2 separate regions of the Homo sapiens genome follow, and region 2 is linked to region 1. The links come from fine-mapping of genetic effects on gene expression. A gene starts in region 1. The other region holds a variant in brackets. All regions are shown on one strand. Distances are from middle to middle.

Region 1 (10,756 bases):
CTGCTCCAAACCACTGAACAGATATGGATGTGTGTTGCTCCCAGTGTCACTGAAACTGCATTTGCAAAAATGATGAAAGTCAAATAAATCTGACATAGCTATTTCCATCTTGCTTCTAACCTCACAAGCTGTGTGTTCATTCCTGGGCATAGGCCAAGCTAACTACGGGAGGAATTTATAGTTTAACTGTAAGGCAAAGACAATAATAGCTCCTTCCTTCCCAAAACTAACCCCCTACTTGTTCAGGAACCAAAAATCACCCTTGAAAAACTAATGAAAGGTCACAAGGTTAGGATTATGGGAGGGGCCTGAATTGCTAAGAAGTAGGTGTAGTTAAGTGATAACTGGCTGGGCGCGGTGGCTCACACCTATAATCCCAGCACTTTGGGAGGCTGACGTGGGCGGAACATCTGAGGTCAGGAGTTCAAGACCAGTCTGGCTAACATGGTGAAACCCTGTTTCTACTAGAAATACAAAAAATTAGCCGGGCATGGTGGCACACACCTGTAATCCCAGCTACTTGAGAGGCTGAGGCAGGAGAATCTCTTGAACCTGGGAGGCAGAGGTTGCAGTGAGCCGAGATCGCGCAATTGTACTACAGCTTGGGCAACAAGAGCGAAACTCCGTCTCAAAAAAAAAAAAAAAAAGAAGTGATAACCAGCCACTGTCCCCAGCTTGCTTTTCTTTTTTCTTTTCTTTCTTTTTTGTTTTTTTGAGATGCGGAGTCTTTCTCTGTCGCCCAGGTTGGAGCGCAGTGCAGTGGCATGATCTCAGCTCACTGCAACCTCCACCTCCCAGGTTCAAGTGATTCTCCTGCCTCAGCCTCCCAAGTAGCTGGGATTACAGGCATGCACCACCACACTGGGCTAATTTTTTGTATTTTTAGTAGAGACGGGGTTTCACCATGTTGGCCAGGCTGGTCTCATACTCCTGACATCAAGTGATCCACCCGCCTCGGCCTCCCAAAGTGTTGGGATTACAGGCATGAGCCACCACACCCAGCCACCAACTATCCTTGAAAAACCCTAGCTTCCGTATTCTTAGGGAGGCAGATTTGAAAATTATCTCCCATCCTTCTGCTTGGCTGGCCCTCTGATAATTAAACTCTTTCTCTGCTCCAAAAACTGTTGCTCTCAATGCATTGGCTTTTCTAGGCAGCAGGCAAGAAGAACCCATTGGGCTGTTACAGCACTTCCAGAGGTAGTCTAATAACTCCTCTCCAAAAAGTCATTTTGGTGGAGAGGTGGAGCAAGATGGCCAAATGGAAGCCTCCAGGAATTGCCCCCGACATAGGAACAACAAATTGAACAACTATCCACCCAAAAAAGAACCTTCATAAGAACCAAAAATCATGTGAGCAATCACAGTACCTGGTTTTAACATCATATTAAGGAAAGAGGCACTGAAGAGGGTAAAAAAGGCAGTCTTGGATTGCCTACACCACCCCTTCCACATCCCCCAGCAGTGGCCACATGGCATAGAGAATCAGTGTGCTTGCGGAAGGGACAGGGCAGTGATTGCAGGGCCTTGCATTGGAACTCAGTGCTGCCCTGTCACAGTGAAAAACAACACTGGGCAGAAATCAGCCAGTGCCCAGAGGGAGCATGTAGATGAGCCCTAGCTAGAGAGGAGTCATTCATCCAAGCAGCCAGAACCTGAGTTCTAGCAGGCCCAGCTACCGTGGGCTAAAGTGCTCTGGGGGGGTCCCAAATAAACTTGAAAGGCAGAATAGGCCAAAAGAACTACAATTCTTGGGCAAGTTCTGTTGCTGGGCTTGGAGCCATTGGGCTTAGAATGTACATGACCTAGTGAGATGCTAGCCAGGGAGGCCAAGGGAATGCTTGCATCACCCTTCTCCAAGCCACAGGCACTGCTGCTGACAGTACTGGGAGAGACTCCTTCCCACCACTTGAGGAGAAGAGAGGGGAGAGTAAAGAAGACATTGTCTTACAACTTGAATACCAGCTCAGCCACGGTAGAACTGTGCACTAGGGGGAGGCCCCCATTTCATGCCCTAGCCCCCACATGAAATTTCTAGAGACACCCTGGGCCAGAACGGAACCTGTTGCCTTAAAGGGAAGAGCCCAGGCCTGGCAAGATTCATCACTTGCTGACTAAAGAGACTTTGGGCTTGAATAATCAGTAGTAGTAGCCAGCCATGCTGGCTTCAGGTGTGGTGGCTTCAGGGGAGAGACTCCTATTTGAGGAAAGGAGAGGGAAAAGTAAGGAGACTTTGTCTTGCGACTTGGATACCAGCTCAGCTACTGGGGAGTAGGGCACCAAGCAGGCTCCTGGAGTCCCTGATTCCATGCCTTGGCTCCTAGACAGCATTTCTGGACATGCCCTGGGCCAAAGAGGACCCCACTGCCCTGAAAGGAGAAACTCGGGACTAATAGCATTTATCACAAGCTGACTGAAGAGCCCCTGTGCCTTGAGTGAATGTTGGCATAGCCAGGAAGTACTAGCCATGGGCTAGTGCAATGGTGGTCATGGGGAAGGACTTTGATGCTTGAGGAAAGAGGAGGGAAGAGTGAGAATAACTTTATCTTGTGGTTTGGGTGCCAGGTCAGCCACAGTGGAATAGAGTACCAGGTAGATTCCTAAGGTTCCCGACCCCAAGCCCTGGCTTCCAGACAGCATCTCTGGACCTACTTGAAGATGGAGAGAACTTGTTGCCCTGATAGGAAGGACACAAGGCTGGCTGAATTCACCAGCTTCTGAATGCAGGCCTTGAGGAAACATAAGCTACTGTAGCTAGACAGTGGTCACTGCAAGCCTTGGACCAGACCCAGTGCTATGTTGGCATCAGGTCTCTCCTAGCACAGTCACAGTGGAGGCAGCCACAAGGGTGCTTGTGTCACCTCTCCCCTAGCTCCAGACAGCTCAGTGCAGAGACTCCATTTGTTTGGGTGAAAGTAAGATAAGAGAACAGAGTCTCTGCCTGGTAATCCAGGTAATTCTCCTGGATCTTACCCAAGACCACAAATGTCATACCCCTACAAGTCTGCAAAAGCTATAGTTTTACTGAGCTTCGGATGGCCCCTAATGCAGATATAGCTGCAGTGACCAAAGACTTAGATCACAACACCCAAGTCCCTTCAAATACTTGGAAAGCCATCCCAAGAAGGGTGGATACAAAAAAATAAAAAGCCCAGACTGTGAAGACAATAATAAATACCTAACTCTTCAGTGCCCAGACACCAACAAAAATCCACAAGCATCAAGACCACCCTGGTAAACACGACCTCACCAAACAAACTAATGAAGGCACAAGTGACCAATTCCAGAGAGAAAGAGATATGTGACTTTTCAAACAGAGAATTCAAAATAGCTGTGTTGAGGAAGCTCAACAAAATTCAAGATAACACAGAGAAGAAATTCAGAATTCTACAAGATAAATTTAACAGAGATTAAAACAATTAAAAAGAATCTAGCAGAAATTCTGAAGCTGAAAAATCCAATTAACGTACTAAAAAATGCAGTCCCTTACAGGCAGAATTGATCAAACAGAAGGAAGAATTAGTGAGCTTGAAGATGGGCTATTTGAAAATACACACTCAGAAGAGACAAAAGAAAAAAGAATAAAAATGAATGAGGTACACCTATAAGATCTAGAAACTGGCTTCAAAGGGCAAATCTAAGAGTTACTGGCCATAAAGAGGAGCTAGAGAGAGAGATCAGGGTAGAAAGTTTATTCAGCGAGATAATGACAGAGAACTTCCCAAACCTAGAGAAAGATATCAATATTCAAGTACAAGAAGGTTATAAAACACCAAGCAGATTTAACCCAACGAAGACACCCCAAAACATTTAATAATCAAACTCCCAAAGATCCAGGATAAAGAAAGAATCCTAAAAGCAAGCAAGAGAAAAGAAACAAATAACATAAAAAGGAGTTCTAATAAGTCTGGCAGCAAACTTATCAGTGGAACTTTACAGGCCGGGAGGGAGTGGCATTACATATTTAAAGTGCTGAGGGAAAAAACTTTTATCCTAGAATAGTACATCCAGTGAAAATATCCTTCAGATGTGAGGGAGAAATAAAGACTTTCCCAGGCAAACAGAAGCTGAGGGATTTCATCAACACCAGACCTGTCCTACAAGAAATGCTAAAGGGAGTTCCTCAGTCTGAAAGAAAAGGACATTCGTAAGCAATAAGAAACCACCTGAAGGTACAAAACTCACTACTAATAGTAAGTACACAGAAAAACACACAATATTATAATACTGTAATTGTGTGTAAACTGTTCATATCTTGAGTAGAAAGACTTAGAGATTAACCTAACTTATCAAAAATAATAGCTATAACAACTTTTCAAGACATAGTATAATAATATATAAATAGAAACAAGAAAAAGTTTTAAAAGTGGGGAGAGTGAAGTTAAAGTGCAGAGTTTTTCTTAGTTTTCTCTTTGATTTTTGTTTATGCAATCAATGTTATGTTGTCATCAGTTTAAAACAATGGGTTATAAAATATTATTTGCCCTGGGCGTGGTGGCTCACACCTGTAATCCCAGCACTTTGGGAGGCCGATGCGGGTGAATCACCTGAGGTCAGGAGTTCGAGACCAGCCTGACCAAATAGTGAAACCCCATCTCTACTAAAAATACAAAAATTAGCTGGGCGTGGTGGTTTGCTCCCGTAGTCCCAGCTACTTGGGGGGCTGAGACATTAAATGGCGCCACTGAAGAAGAATGAATAAGGTCTAGTAATACAACAGGGTGACTACACTCAACAATAATTTATTGTACATTAAACAAACTAAAAGTATAATTGGATTGCTTGTAACAGAAAAAAAGGATAAATGCTTGAGGTGATGGATAGACCGTTTACCCTGATGTGATTATTATACATTGTATGCCTGTATCAAAATATCTCATGTACCTCTTAAGTATATATATATATTTACCTACTTCGTACTCATAAAAATTTTAAAAGGTACATAAATGTTATCATTGCATCCTCTTAATTTTATTTTTCAGTTCCAGAGGGATAATCCTGTCTCTGCCGCAAATGCAGCACCTTCCTCAGTCTTGGGGCGTCCATCAAGCGGAGAGCTGGAATGTGACTGAAAGTAACAGAGTATAGGTGGAACTAGAACAAGGTCACGAGCTGGTGCCCAACTCGTGTAACTCCTGGTTCCAGGCTGTCCCTCTAGGATGCTGTTGGCGCCAGCCGTGGTAGTAGGACAGAGTCTGGGTAAAGGTCGCCTGCTGACAAGATGGTAGCTAGGAGACCTCTAGGTGCGCCAAAATTAGGGCGTCTTTTCCTGGACCGGCAAAACGCCCTGCTCAAAGCTCATTACATCACCACGCCCAAGAACTGATACTTTAGCAGGGCAACGCACCAACCAAGCGACTCCGCCCCACCCTCCCCGCTCCTCCAGCACACGCAAGCGCACAGAGGCCCGCGAGTGACGTCACCTCTCCCGACACCACCTCGTTGTCGTACGACCAAAGGCCTGTCGTAACGGCCGGGAAAAGCCTCGAGAAGAAGGGCACGCACGCCGTACACCCTAACATGCTCGCCAGCATGCGCGCGCAGGTCCTTGGCGCAGGCATTGGGACTGGAGCCAATGAGGTGCGGCGACGTTACTGCGTAGCCGCCAGCTCGGCCGCACGTCAGGGCGCGGGAGCGCGGAGCGAGTTTGGTTGCACTTACACCGGTACTTAAGCGCGGACCGGCGTGTCCTTGGACTTAGAGAGTGGGGACGTCCGGCTTCGGAGCGGGAGTGTTCGTTGTGCCAGCGACTAAAAAGAGGTGAGAGCGGGTCGCGGAGGCCGCACCTGGTTAGAGGCAGAGCTGTGGGAGGCGCGCACTTGCGAGCGACCGAAACCCAAGCGGGGAGCATTCGAGTGGAGCCCGCGCTGGGTGGGAGGGCGGGGAGTGAAGACCCTGGACTGTGGTCAGACCGAGCTGGGCGAGTAACGGCTTGAGGTGCGGCGGAGCCCTAACTAGGGACAGGTATGGTCTCGGTCAGGGACTGGAGGCGGCTTGGATACAGATCCGAGGAGGAGGCGGCCTCTTCCGTAGTGGTTGCTGAAGGGCTATGGAAATGATAGGCAAGACTTCCCTCCTGGAAAGCCGAAGCTTAGAGCTTCACGTTCTTCTTCAGAGGGCAAAAGCTGTTGCTCTTCTAATAAGGGGCCAGTTCTTTTCGTGGGCACATGTTTCTTCCGTCAGTCGTTCTGACATCCTAGAAGGAGTTTCATCAATCACCTTGAAACCGACCTGGACGGGTGACCTCGTGGTCGCCCCAGGAGATCACAGGTAGGGGAGTTGGGATGTCCCCGGGGGACCGTGCAGCCTGCCCCTGAGCTCCCATTCACAAGTTCGAGTGTCAAGCTACTCCTGTGACCTGGGCAGATAGAAACAGCCAGGACCGCTTTTTAAACATTTGTGTGCTTTGCGTTATCCTCAGGGAGAGGTGGCTTTACATTGTAGTAAGATTAAATGGTTAGGTCTTTTTAAAAGTTGCGGTTGTGGTGATTTTGGCTTAATGTGTTCGCCCTTGAGCTTCAGATCTGTGACTTCGTGACCATGATTGTCTCTTCTGAAACTGGAGTTTGAATTAGGTTCCCTCTTTGCTTGGGCTTTAACGTTCCTTCACGTATACACACAAAAATACGTTTTTGAGGAGGTACTCCTAAAAATGTTTTTGGTATTAAAGAATATTTGGTATAAAGAGTATTAAAGCAAAACAAGATTCATTCTGGTATTTAATGACATAAATTAGCAATGGATTGGTAATTAAGTGGCTAGAGTGGTCATTCATTTACACTGTATTTGTTACCTGAGGAAAAATTTACTAAGTTGAAGCTTTCGTTTTTAGAATTAAATATGGGTGATGTTGAGAAAGGCAAGAAGATTTTTATTATGAAGTGTTCCCAGTGCCACACCGTTGAAAAGGGAGGCAAGCACAAGACTGGGCCAAATCTCCATGGTCTCTTTGGGCGGAAGACAGGTCAGGCCCCTGGATACTCTTACACAGCCGCCAATAAGAACAAAGGTAAGAGTCACTTGTTAAATAAAACAACACAAAATGCAGGAATATAACATGTGGCAAACTATCAGGAGTGTGAAATAACCGATGCATTCTTTCTTGTTTAGGCATCATCTGGGGAGAGGATACACTGATGGAGTATTTGGAGAATCCCAAGAAGTACATCCCTGGAACAAAAATGATCTTTGTCGGCATTAAGAAGAAGGAAGAAAGGGCAGACTTAATAGCTTATCTCAAAAAAGCTACTAATGAGTAATAATTGGCCACTGCCTTATTTATTACAAAACAGAAATGTCTCATGACTTTTTTATGTGTACCATCCTTTAATAGATCTCATACACCAGAATTCAGATCATGAATGACTGACAGAATATTTTGTTGGGCAGTCCTGATTTAAAACTAAGACTGGCTTGTGGTTAAATGAATATGTTCAGTTTTTGAATTTTAATAGTAACTCCAATTCAGTAAATGGTATCACTGTTTACCCCTTTTAAAGATATGATTAGACTTCGTTAGTAATGTTCAACTTTTCACAAAGATGGTGAGTGCCATCTTAAAACTTACTGGAGATTGGTTTTATATTTAGATTTATATAACTGGTTATGTGAATATATTTAAATACTGGGGAAATTGCTTCACTGTCTTAGAACCAAGCAAGATTCACCTGTGTTTTGTGTTCATGTTCATTTGCCTCTTAAAGGCAAGGGTTGAAGATAAATAAGGTAGCAATGTCTATAGTTTTGGCCTTAACTATGCCAATCTAATTATAATTCCCTGTATTTAAAATGGTTTCTTTTACTTATTGAAAGGCATTTTAGTGTGGTTTATGTGTAATATTAAAGATTATTCAACACCTCTCACATCTTACAGATCTATAAGGTCACATGCTTTTAAAATAGTAGCAAGTTAAACTTCACTCTTGAATTCTTTACAATCTAAGTCAAACTAAGTTATAATTTAGGATTGTCTTTAAACAGCCATTCAGAAACAAAACTGTAGAACTGTGTATTTGATTGGGAATGGTGCTTTTGCCAACTTAAAAGGATTAAAGTAACGGAGATATACACAAATTTTAAAATTATGTGTGATCACAAGACTAAAGATAATTAAAAAGAAAACCACAGATCATGACTTTTTGACTGTGCTTGATTTCATGACTGATGCACAAATTTTAATGATTAAAAAGTGCAGGAGCCCTAAATGTCAGTGCAGCAGCCCTAAATGTCAGTGCAGCAGTGTTAACCAGTCATGGTGCTAGATTGTTTACTTGGTTTTCTAGGACTGCCTCAACTAGAATAACACTTCACTAATTGACTCTTAGTTTCTTTGCTCAGATTGAGAACTGCAGCATTTATGCCAGACATGGACAGAGGAATGCCTGTGGTCATAGTTTTGTGATGTGTAACAGTGTATAATTACATACTGAATTATTTCATGCATAGTCTGTGCCATACACATTTAGAGTAGTCCTTGGAGATTTTATGGAGATGGTGAGCACAAGGTAAGTCATAAAGAATAATGAGAAAATAAATCTATGCTGGTGCAGCTGAGAACTGTATCTTTGTGGGACAGTGAGAAGACTGAGAAGATGTGAATCCATGGTCTCAAAGGTGATAGGGACGATTAGATAGGTGTTTTAAGGCCTGAAAGCAATTTATAACATATGAGTCTTATTTTTATTTATAGAAATGTGGAAAGCTTGCTGTAATTCATATTTGAAGTCCTAGTCTGAGTTCTGGTGGGGAATTTAAAAATGCATCCTGGAAATCCTTTAAAGATTTCAGACTTTGAAAGGCCTTGTAGCAGAGGACTTGGTGACTGTATAAAGTTAGTGGTATTCAGGGACAGTGTAGCAAGTAGCTTACAAGGGGACAATTCTGGACTAATGAGAAAGACCTGAAGTGAAGGCTAGAGAGTTGATTTTTTTTTTTTTTGGCATCCTGGAAATGATACAGGAAACATATTAAGATAGATACAGAAATGTGTTCAACCTTCCATCTTGGCTAGTTGTGGCGTTTAGTTTGTTTTTTGAGACATGGTCACGCTGTGTCGCCAAGGCTGGAGTGCAGTGGTGCGATCTCGGCTGGCTGCAACCTCTATTTCCCAGGCTCAAGCGATTCTCTCACTTCAGCTTCCCAAGTAGCTGGGACTACAGGTGTTCGCCACCATGCCCAGCTAATTTTTTTGTAGAGATGGAGTTTTGCCATGTGGTCCCAGGCTGGTCTCAAACTCCTGAGCTCAAGCAATCCGTCCACTTGCCTTGGCTCCCCAAAGTGCTGGGATTACAGGCGTGAGCCACCAGGCCCTGCCTGGTTTTCAAATTCAGAAATCTTATTATTTAACCCAGAAGTAATCAGCCCAGTAGTAACTTAGGTTTAATTTTTTTTCAGGTTTAAAATTTTTCTCATTTATTTTTTCTGAGACGGAGTTTCGCCCTTTTCGCCCAGGCTGAGTACAGTGGTGCAATCTCACTGCAACCTCCGCCTTCCAGTTGCAAGTGATTCTCCTGCCTCAGCCTCCTGAGTAGCTGGGATTACAGGCACCCGCCACCACGCCTGGCTAATTTTTGTATTTTTAGTGGAGATGGTGTTTCACCATGTTGGCCAGACTGGTCTTGGACTCCTGACCTCGTGATCCACCCACCTTGGCCTCCCAAAGTTCTAGGATTACAGGTGTGAGCCACCACGTCCGGCCAATTTTTCTCATTTCTATGCCTCCTATATTAAGGTCTGTGTTGGCACAGATGAGTAACTGCCATGTTCTAGGTCAGTTATACCCAAGCACTTCTGGTGGTTTAAAATGTGATTCTGTAACTTTTTTATTTTTATTTTTTTGAGATAATTTCACTCTTGTTGCCCAGGCTGGAGTGCAATGGCGTGATCGCTGCTCACCGCAACCTCCGCCTTCCAGGTTCAAGCGATTCTCCTGACTCAGCCTCTCAAGTAGCTGGGATTACAAGCATGCGCCACCATGCCCAGCTTATTTTGTGTTTTTAGTAGAGACAGGGTTTCTCCATGCTGGACAGGCTGGTCTTGAACTCCCGACGTCAGGTGATCTACCTGCCTCGGCCTCCCAAAGTGCTGGGATTACAGGCGTGAGCCACCACGCCTGGCCAATTATGTAATTTTTTAAAAAGGACATTTCTATCAGGGATATATACCTTCAGAAATAAGGAAATAGGGGAAAAAAAGAGCACTATAAACCACATGTTTTCATTTCTAGTGCTTCGCTGTAAGTGGCTAGGTTGGTAGAATCAAAAACAAGGGCCAGATGTATTTAAGGGGTATTCAGATGCCACCTACATGCTTATTTTGTCTAGAACAGTGCTGTCTAATAGAACTTTCTGTGACGATGGATATTTTGTAGACTTTTGCTGTCCAGTGTGGTAGCCACTAACCACATGTGGCTGTTAAGCCCTTGAAATATAGCTAGTGTGACTAGAAAGTATTTTATTTTAAATTTACATAGGCACAAGTGGCTAGTGGCTACTGTATTGACATTCTGGGTCTAGGACTAGAACCAGTGGTCTGTAACAAAAGTACTTTCTCTTTACTCTATTAAATCTAGAATTAGCCGGGCATGGTCGCTCATGCCTGTAATCCCAGCACTTTGGGAGGCCAAGGCAGGCAGATCACTTGAGGTCAGGCGTTTGAGACCAGCCTGGTCAACATGGCGAAACCCTGTCTCTACAAAAAACATAAAAATTAGCCAGGTGTGGTGGTGGGCACCTGTAATCTCAGCTACTTGGGAGGC
Region 2 (10,756 bases), 70 kb before region 1:
GGCAAGAAAGGAAGCAAGGAGACTAGTTAGAAGACTTTAAAAATAACACAGAATAGATAATGGAAGTTGGATCAGGTTGGCACTTCAGAGGTTGTGCAAAGTGGCCAGATTCTGAGTGTATTTTGAAGGTAGAATTAATAGGACATGCTATAAATTGGATGAGGGATATGAGAAAAAGAGAGGTGCTGAAGATAACTCCAAAGTTTTCTACTTGAATAACTAAAAAGATAGAATGTGAATCTGAAAGAAATTTAACAGAATGGTCAAGAATAGAATCTATCCATGAGTGTGAACCAAATGGTACTATTATGCTGTGGGCTATTATTTTGAAAGAACTCAAAGCTTTGTAAAACACAAAAACATATCAAAGACATTTGAAATTGATATAATTTTTTAACATTTTATAATATTAATAAATAAACCAAACTACAAAAAATAAAAATAAAAAAAGGAATTTCCAGCATTCCCTATTCCCAAGACTCAACAAGAGCTGACTTGCTCAATCCAATGGCAAATACTCAATGCAATGGATTTATTAAGCACCTACAGACGTGTTTCCAGAGTTACTTACCTCATTGGCATTAACTGCAAAGATAAAACATCCAACCAATTGTTCTTTTGGTGGACATTTAAGTGCCTGTTAGGTACCAAGCACTAATCATAGGCATTTGAAACCCGAAATGAATAGAAAAACACAGTTCCTGCTTTCTAGGTACTCCTGGATAAACTCCATATAAACTGGCCTGCAGCCAGGAGTGGTGGCTCACACCTGTAATCCCAGTATTGTGGGAGGCCGAGGTGGGCGGATCACCTGAGGTCAGGAGCTTGAGACCAGCCTGGCTAACATGGTGAAACCCCATCTCTACTAAAAATACAAAAATTAGCGGGGCGTGATGGTGAGCGCCTGTAATCCCAGCTACTCAGGAGGCTGAGGCAGAAGAATCACTTGGACCCAGGAGGCAGAGTTGCAGTGAGCTGAGAACACATCACTGCACTGTAGTCTGGAAGACAGAGCAAGACTCCAACTCAAATAAATAAATAAATAAACAGACCTGCTCATGTCACAAGGGGGAAGACAAGAGAGAATATTTAACTTTCCAAAGACAGGAAAGGAAAATCAGGATAGCAGAGTGGACAAGAGCACAGCTTTGATGCCCAGACAAACCTGGACCATTTTTCTCACATGTCACATGGTAATAATATCTATCTCACAGGTGTGTTATAGAATTTAAAACTACATACACTTACACACATTTACAGACATATAATTGTATCACAGCACCAGGCACATAATATACATTAAATAAATTATCATTATTATTATGGTGTGTGAGTTATCTGTTTATTGGCTCTCAGGTCCAAATCAACTCTTCTTCACCCTGCTTTGTGAGACTCTGCAAACGTTTCTCCTGTCTTTTAAGCTTCACCAAAAGACAGCACTGGAGTGACCTTAAAAGGCAAAGATAACAGGAAGACACCTCAGTTTCAGGTTCTTGTCTTCTGATGTTTTTATTATTACTATTATTATTATTATTATTCAGCATGGGAGTCCAGTGGCCTCATGTTCAGTTCCAGCTCTGCCCTCAGGCCACTCCCTCCACCAGCAGCCACATCCACCAGCAATGGCAGGCCACATCTACAGACCAGTTCTGCTCAGCTCACACCCTCCAACAAGAGCGGACTACTTCTAGGGACTACCGCCGCCTGCACCCTGGCAAGTTTCTTCTCCATCTGAAGGCTTGGAAGCCATGCTGTCTTCCAAGAAGTTTGCATCTCAGCCTTCGTTGAGGCAGGGAGACCCTTCTGGTCCTAAGTTTCTTTATTGTTTACTCTACCTCAGCCTACAAGTTATAGCTTCTTAAAGTCCTCTTTGGTCCCTCTGAGTAGTTAAGCACTTTCCTCTAGTAAACAAGCTTTTACTTATTAAATTTGTCCCGTTCAAATAATGGGTGTGGTTTCTGTCTCCTTGCTGAACACAGACTGATACATAAGGTTTACCAAAGAGAATGAAACTTGGTATGAATGAATAGCAGGTGGAAAGGTATGCAGACAAGAAAAAGGCTGTCAGGAAATTGCAAGTAGGTAGTTCAATAGAACTGGAGAGTGGGCTGTGGGTGGGACAGGGCTGATGAAGACAGATCTGATTCTGAAGGAATTTTTTTAAGTTATGAATTCTGCTTTCATTCTGTAAACAGGGATCCATGGTGGATTTCAAGCAAGATTCATGACAGATTCGCATTTTAGAAAAATCTCCCTGGTGGCAGTGTAAGAATAACAGGATGAGTATAAAACTTAGAGGTAGGCAGAGCAGTAAAAGAATACTGACTGACATTTCTAGAACTCACGAACACCTCCAATTGCCTCTATTCCCAGGACACAGGAACATTACACTTCCCAGCTTGTTAATTTTATGCATGGCCCCCTAATTTCCTTTGGCTGCTGAATTATGAAGAAACTGATGTGAATTACTTATGAGTCAAAGCGGTTAAGAACCGATGCTTAATAACCCATGCTCCCTTCTTCTGCTGATACAAACCCTGAAGCCTCATATTGAGAAGACAGAGTTAGGAGACAGTGGACTCCCCACCAACCTGGGCCCTGAATGACACAATATGACAATACACAGCCCCTTGCTGTCTTGGTTTAAAGAGAACAAGGGGAGACAACCCACTGGGATTTTAGGCCACTTAGATTTGGGACTACATGTTCCTGCAGCATGAACTTGTCTATCCTGACTCCATGCAGAGACTTTCTTCTCTCTCTTTTCAGCCAGAATGATAGTTAAACATGGAGTTTGTGACATAGATGACAAACTCTTGGATGAATACACTGAAGTGTCCCTGAGGTTAATACAGAGTTCTGTGTCTCTCAGTCTGGAAACCAGTCTTGAAAGAGTAAACACCAACTGCCTGGCACTTCACAGCCTCGGTTCAACCATGGTTGTCATCATTTGCCATCACATCAATTCACACAAAGATCAAATACTGGTGATCCACAACAGCTTAAAATCATCCTTTATATGTATACATATACATATGTATGTTTTTTCTATACATTATTGTTATTAGGAGAAGAATTTTACAGACAGCTTTAACTTCAAGAGAGCAAAAAAATTATCCAAGCTGAGTATTGTCAAAAGAATTTCCCCCATAGCTCTCAAACACTGTCCTCAGATCACTGCTATTCAAATTGTGGTCTCTGTCCAGTAATAAATACAGATCCATGACAAGATAAGTAAAGAAATTGAGCTGACTTGGTGGCCGGGCACGGTAGCTCACACTTACAATCCCAGCACTTTGGGAGGCCGAGGCAGGGGGATCACTTGAGGCCAGGAGTTCAAAACCAGCCTGGTCAACATGGGGAAACCCTGTCTCTACTAAAAATACAAAAATTAGCCAGGTGTGGTGGCTCAGGAGGCTGAGGCAGGAGAATCACTTGAACCCGGGAGAAGGAGGTTACAGTGATGCAGTGAGCAGAGGTCATGCCATTACACTCCAGCCTAGGCGACAAGCGCAAAACTCTGTCACCAAAAAAAAAATAAAAAACTATTGGCCATCATCTCTTCAAACTGTTTATGTTGTCCCACAGCTTTGGTGCCCTATTTTTTTGTTTTGTTTTGTTTTCACTCTTTTCTTTGTGTCTCAGTTTAGGTTATTTGTTTATTTATTGTTTTGAGACAGGGTCTCACTCGGTCACAGTTTAGGTAATTTCAATCAACTTTCACGTTCACTGCTTTGTTCTTCAGTTGTGTTTGACAGAGCAGGAGCACCATCATCTCAGACAAACACCGTCACTTTAAATCCCAGCTCCCTTTCTAGCCTCATGCATTTCAAGGAAATCATTTCTCTTCTAACTACAATCAGCCAGAAAGAGCAAACAGTAAAACACAGATAACACAGCCCCGGCACAGAGGAAAGTAGGGGAAAGTCTCTTGGGTAACTGCCAAACTTCACTCTCATACAATAGGCCCAGTAAAACAGTGGGCCTTAATAAGCACATTCCTTTCCCTTCGGGTGCACTAAGATAGGGAAGCTAAATGCAAACTCAGGGGGTATGCCTGCAGCTGCAAAAAAAAAAAAAAAAAAAAAAAAGTGTGGAAACAAACACACAACTCTCCCTCCCAAATAAACACAACAAAAAAACACAAAAGTGTCCAAGCCTCCAACAAACTCTCTTACCCTAAATCCTTAAACACTCTTAGTCTGTAAAAAAATGTGCCTCTACCCTAACTCAGCCAAAAGCCCCTCTCAGGTTCGTTTTCTCTAAAATAAACCTGTCCTTAACTGCCAAGCCACCTTTTGTGTTTCTTTCCTCTTTCTTTAATTCTTACAGGGTTGAGTCTACTGATAGTCCTGTCAAATGCATACTTCATCTCTGCTACCATCACTTTTTTTTCTTCTGGCATTCCCATTAGACTCTTCCTTACAGCTTCCATCTCTCTGTTGACATTCCCCATCTAGTCATGCATGTGGTCCACCTGAGTCTGTTTCTGTTGATTGATTTTTCCCCTGACAGTGGGTTGTTTTCAGTTGCTCTTGTGTGTCCTGTGATCTTTGATTGAATGTTTGACATGTGTAAGACAGTAGAGACTGAAGCAAGAAGTATTTATGCCCGGAAATGGGCATGCCTTTCCTTCTACTACCTGCTGGTATGAGGGGTTGAGTTGATCTAGTGATGAGTTCAACTGGGTCTGGGTTTTGCTGTTGCCATTTTAGTTCAATGCACCACTGGCTTCAAATCCCCCTAGTGCTACTGCGTCCCTGGGTAAGGGCTGGGCTCACAATATTCATGCTCCACCCTCAGATTTACACCTTCCCCGTGTGCCCATCCACATTTTTTGGCTGTCCCTTGCTGTAGACTGCTATTACTTGTTACTTGGTGCTTGTTGACCTGGTGTGGGGTCAGGGCCACTGTCTGTCGTTTTGTTCCAGACTCAGTGTGAGGCAGGCCCAGTGTTCCAGGGCCCAGAGAATGAGGCTTTTTTATCCATCCTTTCTTCCCCAGGACAAGGGGCACTCTAATGGACTGGGACAATTTCCTGCCTGCAATTGCCATGAGCATTTTTCTTTTCCTTCCCAATATGAACTCCAAATATCTGAGACAGGTCTCAGTTAATTTAGAAAGTTTATTTTGCCAAGGTTGCAGACAAGCACCCATGACACAGCCTCAGGAGGTTCTGATGACAGGTGCCCAAGGTGGTAGGGACACCCCTTGGTTTTACACATTTTAGGGAGACTTGAGACATCAGTCAATATGTGTAAGAGGTACATTGGTTCAGTCTGGAAAGGTGGGTCAATTCAAGGTGAAGATGGGACAACTCGAAGCAGGGAGGGGCCTTCCAGGTCATAGGTATATAAGAGACAAATGGTTGCATTCTTTTGAGTTTATGGTTAGCCTCTCCAAAGAAGGCAATCAGATATGCATTCATGTCAGTGAGCAGAGGGGTGACTTTGAACAGAATGGGAGGCAGGTTTGCCCTAAGCAGTTCCCAGCTTGACTTTTCCTTTTAGCTTAGTGATTCTGGGGCACCAAGATTTATTTTCCTTTCACACCACCAACCTCAGTGGGATTTTCCTGCAGCCTGAGGTCAGCAGGGTTTTCTGCCCTTTCCCCAAAAGGTATGGCTTTTGTTTGTTCCGGAAGAAGAGTCTGGAAGAGCTTTGTGCATTTCCTGCAGTGGCAGCTGCTCCCCTGCCCCAAGCTGGCACTGTTGTGGGAGGCTCTATCTGGTCTCCCACTCTGTGCCCAATACATTCATGTGTGAGTGGGGCTCAGTGGCCTTCTATAGAGAAGCACCTGCAAGAGAGTGTGAACTCTGCTTGTCCAAAGATCCCAGGAGGTCCACACTTTCATGCTGACTCAAACACAGCCTTCAGTGATTCTTTAAAGGCATCGACTGAGCCAGTCTTCCCCACCTGTGTGGCAGGGCTGTCTCCTTCTCACGCTTGGCCACAGACAGCCATGTTCACACCTCCTCTTCTCAGAGGCTCCTGCCTTCCTTCAACCTCAGGCTGAATGTTTGCCCTGTGACTTCAGCTTCTGATGGGTTCAGGGAAAGGTATGATCTTGTAGATTATCTGTTGTTTTACTGTTA[C/T]CAGAGGAGTGAGACCCATTCTGATTTTCTACTTCCTAGTCGGCAACTGGAAGCCAGAGCAATGTTTGCAAACATCAGTCAGATCACCTCCTCATTGCTGAAAACCATGCTGAACACAGTCAGAATGAAATCTCCATTTGGTGCGGGGGGCTTTCAAGCTCCACACGGCCTGGCCCTGGTGTCCTCTCAACCTCAGCCCTCCTGACTCTCCAGGACCCACTGTCCCAGGCCATATGAAGCTCATTCTCAGAGAAGTCCTCCACTTCTCATTCCTGCCCTGAGGGCTTTGCCTGGCTTTTCCCTCTGCCAGGAATGCTATTTCCTCCATTCTCACTCAGGTCAGAGGGAATGTTCCTTATCCTGCAATCCTCAGTTCAAAGTTTACCCTCTCTGAGAGCCCTCCCCTCTTTCCAAGGTTTCCCCCTCCCAGATCCCATAAAAGTTCAAACATCTTACCATATTACATATGATTTTGGAAGCTTCTCAAAATTTATTTTTGGAATAAAGGAGATGGATGAAGATGAGATTTCTCCCAGCCATATTTATTTGGTCCTCAATATTTTGCTCAAATTACCCAGGTTGGTAGTTCTCAACCTTAGCTGAGACAACGGCATCCACCTGCCAAGGGTGAAGGCCCACGATAGGCTGTTCTGGGCACCTGGAGGCAGAAGGGGTCAGGGACCAGACGTCTTTATAGGTTCAGCCTCCTGGGATCATTCAGGGACCACAAAGATATCCAGTTTTCTGTAGGAAGCAAGACATCTGGTGACTGCTCTATTCTACTTCAATCCTCACTCACTCTCACCAGTGAAGCTGCCTTAGGAACAACACCAGCCAAGCAAAGAGGGTGTTTGGTTTGGGGAAAAAATGATCTATTGACTCCAAAGCAGCCTCTGTGCTAGTGGAGACCCCATCTCAAGAGGAGGGATGGCAGACTCCACAATTCCCAGCTGTCAATACAGGAGGGGGCTTCGTTTTCCTGGGTCACTGAAAAAGAACAAGAGAACTCTGGGGCCTTGGTCCTGGAGAAGACCCAGGGGGACCATCCCTCCCAGAAACACTCTGGAAAAAGGTTGTGGAGTTGTTTTTATCTGTAAATGTCCATATCTGATAGTTCAGGATTTCTTGCTTTTTAGGGTTTCACTAAAGTTTTAGGTTACTAAGAATAAAAATTCCAGTTAACACATACTTCTGTATACAAAATATGCTAGAAAGGGTTATGTTATTAGTGAAAAAAAGAATAATTTTGTCTAATTCAGAAGTTATCTGAAAGTTAGCTTAAATTACAGATTTGAAAAGGTTATTTATGAAACAATGTAGTAAGGAATAATTAAGTAGGGGAGAAAGATGAAAAAAATTTAAATAATAAAATATTCTTTAAAACCTGATAGAGAAATGGAGACATTTGGCTAATTAACATTTTCATTGTTAAAGCCAAGTCTTGATTAAAGTAAAATAAGAAGTATTGTAAAGAAATGAATCAGCAGTTTGGCAATTCTTTTTTAAATATAGTTAAGTATGAAGCTGGGTTTAGTGTGGAGCCAAATTTCACATACATGCTTGCATTGCTTCACTCTGTTTACTGTTTTGCTTGGATAGTGCTAGAGTACTTACTGGTCATGTGCCTAAAGTGAATTTCTTAATTGCACAGAATTTATAATAATATTGATGAACTTAAGGATATTAAATTGTGTATCAGGAATAAAATATGTAATATGTGGGTTTTGGGGATCAGTAACACTGTAGCCTCCAAGGTATATTGAGTAGGAAAATTTAGGGTTGGTCTCCTGTTTTTTGTTTCTGCTTCTAGTTTTCATTCATTTGCTGTTTATTCTCCTCTAGCTTTGTGTGTATGTATATGTGTATGCATATATATAAAACCATGATTTTTTTTTTTTAGTTCCTAGTGGAAGGCTTTTACTTGGTTCTGTGAATACTTATTTTGTTTCCTATGCATTTCTAGCAAATCATTATTTGTTCCATTTATCTGGAATTTCTACACTGCCTTTGTTGGGCCACAGGAGTTAATGGAGCACACCAGCTTTCTATCCAAAACTAGTTTTTTGGATTCTAGGCTCCCTGATACTTTAAGTGTGTTGAGTATACTCTAATAAATAGAATTTGAGTCACATTTCTCTCTCTCTCTGCCTAATTTCTCCAAAATTTGTAAACTATTTGTGAATATTCCTAATTCATGGCAATGTGTTTGTTTGCATACAGTCAAGCGGGGTCAACTAGGGCCGGTCAGGGAGAGAGAACCCAGAAACGTGGCAAGCTGGCAAAAGGGTAAGAATTTCTTACCAGCCAGTCACTGGCCTCTTTCTCTCTGTACAAACTGGTTAAATAAATAGTAAAAGTCACTGTTTATCTCCTCTGTAAAGTTTTAATTGATACAAAAGAGCTTTAATTAATTGGTTTAATAATAATAAGAGCTTAAATCAAATATTTTGTCAAAAAAGTGAAAAATGTAATGCCTTTTATTTAGTTCATGTGACTTGTGTAATCTTTGGGAAATAAAGACAGTCTTAAAGATTATTGGTAAAATACAAATGTCTTCAAAATGTAAACATGTGGCCTAAGTTATGCTCAAATTTCAGGTTTGCTAAATGCTTTAAGGTCATAAACTGCTCCTTTAGCTTTTGAAAGTTGTTTAACTTGTCTGCTTTCCACCAGGTAAGGCCTGAGGACATGTGGAGGTGGCCGCACCCCTGGCTAATGCTGGAAATAGTCAAACCTTATCAGAACATAACTTACCAGGTTTTACATTAAAATTAAAATTGCTGAGAGTCACCATTATAACATGTAATTAAGACTACTAGAAACAGTTTTACATGCAAGGTGTGTAAGAACAGAAGAATTTTTTTTTGTAAAAGATTATAAAAGGTTTTCGCTTCTTTAAAATTTCTGAGTTATCATTTTGGCAAAATAAATAGTTTATGGTAATCTGGAATTCCAAAATCAAACTTCAGTTTTAAAATTTTCTTTCCTGATGCCTAGCTTTTTGAATTGATCAGAGGGCCCTTGAAAACATCTGGAAAAGAAGTAAACGAGATTATTTGACATGTTTAGGTATATGGGATTGCCAAAATGATGTTCAATCTTCTTTAGGTTATGTTTTTGTAAATAATACTAATATATATTCCAAAATTGTATGGGATTTCTAAAATTCTAATGTGTAAGTATATGCTATCAATTATAATTATGGTTATTATGTTAAGTTACTGTAAACCACAGAAATAACCAAATTTCCTTGTATAAAGCTACTAACCCAAGTAGAACAAAAAAAAATTAAATGCCAAGAAAAGTCAGATTCTCATGTTAAACCAGCTGATACTGAAATTGTTTAGATATACAATTTGAATAAACTTCACAGTCTAAGTCAAATTACCTTTGATAACTCATCAGTTGTCAGTGCTATGCACCTAATTTAGAAAAACTACTGGTATTCGAGAGGATATACATCTAATGTTAATAAGCATGGACTCATGGAGAACCAGGATGACCACCTTGTCCTTCTTGAGTCCTTAAAGTTTTTATTATTAAAAGTTCTGCATTCCATGACTCATCATGGAAAAGATAAAATAATCCAAAGTGAATACATTCATGTAGTAACTTACAAATTACTAAAATAGTTTATAACCAATGTTTGGCTCTATATTCATGGGAAAACAATTAAAGCTTCAGGTACATTTGGTCACCTGGTGGGCCATTTGAACATTTCGTAAAGGGATTTCACGCAACTGTTATTTTCAGTGCATGTTTTCTGATTGTATAAAAGCTTTCCTGGCCAGGCACGGTGGCTCATGCCTGTAATCCCAGCACTTTGGGAGGCTGAGGCAGGTGGATCGCCTGAGGTCAGGAGTTCGAGACCAGCCTGGCCAAAATGGCGAAATACTGCCTCTACTAAAAATACAAAAAGTTAGCCAGCCATAGTGGCGGGTGCCTGTAATCCCAGCTACTCAGAAGGATGAGGCAGGAGAATCACTTGAACCTAGGAGGCAGAGGTTGCAGTGAGCCGAGATCGTACCATTGCACTCCAGCCTGGGTGACACAGCAAGACTCTGTTTCCAAAAAAAGAAAAAAAAAGCTTTCCCATGCCAGAGGGCTGATGTTATCACAGCAGATTATTATGCTACAGTGTAGTTTCACCAGGTAAAGAAAACTTTTTATGGTTTGGATCTTCTGAGAACGTCAAAGAAAAACTGTCCTTGCCATCCACACTATTACAAAATTTCAGGACCTTGAACTTTGGGTTCATAATCTCACAACTGAGAAAGGTCCCTCATCACTCTTGGAACTCTACACCCATTGAAATCCTTAAGGTAAAACTAGCCAGGAAAGTTTCTCCCCAGAAGAAGATGGCATCTTGATGTGAACAGCTTTTTCCATGTTCACAGATTAAGACTTCTATTATCATGAAACTCTAATCTTTGAATATTTTTTCCTGCTTATGCTTCTATAAACAATAGAAGTGGTTAGGGGGTCAGTCTGTTATGTGCACTTGTGGGGTATACTTTTATTTGTGAAGAAGTTTACAGCCAGCCTTATACATGGATAAACTTATACTTTGATAGATAAAAGATGAAGACCCAATGTAGGTACAAAACTTTAATGGTACATACATTGCCTCGTAATCAGTTATGAACAAAACATTGGTTCATT

The links. PIP is the estimated chance that this variant, and not a neighbour inherited with it, causes the effect.
Region 2: its variant is fine-mapped to the expression of CYCS in whole blood (TOPMed, PIP 0.99).

Annotation. Positions count from the first base shown.
Region 1 is chr7:25,120,204-25,130,959 of GRCh38, reverse strand. CYCS (cytochrome c, somatic) reads left to right here and starts at 5,700. Exons shown (of 3, transcript NM_018947.6): 1 at 5,700-5,760; 2 at 6,833-7,009; 3 at 7,111-10,756. The coding sequence starts at 6,841. The coding sequence ends at 7,259. It also overlaps a transcript of SPMIP4 not described here. RefSeq lists enhancers at 5,290-5,539, 5,687-6,230, 6,231-6,775.
Region 2 is chr7:25,189,844-25,200,599 of GRCh38, reverse strand. All of the region lies in intron 1 of LOC124901603 (a long non-coding RNA gene), which reads right to left. LOC105375191 (a long non-coding RNA gene) reads right to left here. Exons shown (of 3, transcript XR_927102.3): 3 at 6,621-6,838. Among named protein-coding and RNA genes, the nearest start is that of SPMIP4, 15 kb to the right of the region's middle. The variant C/T (reference allele first, on the strand shown) is at 6,095.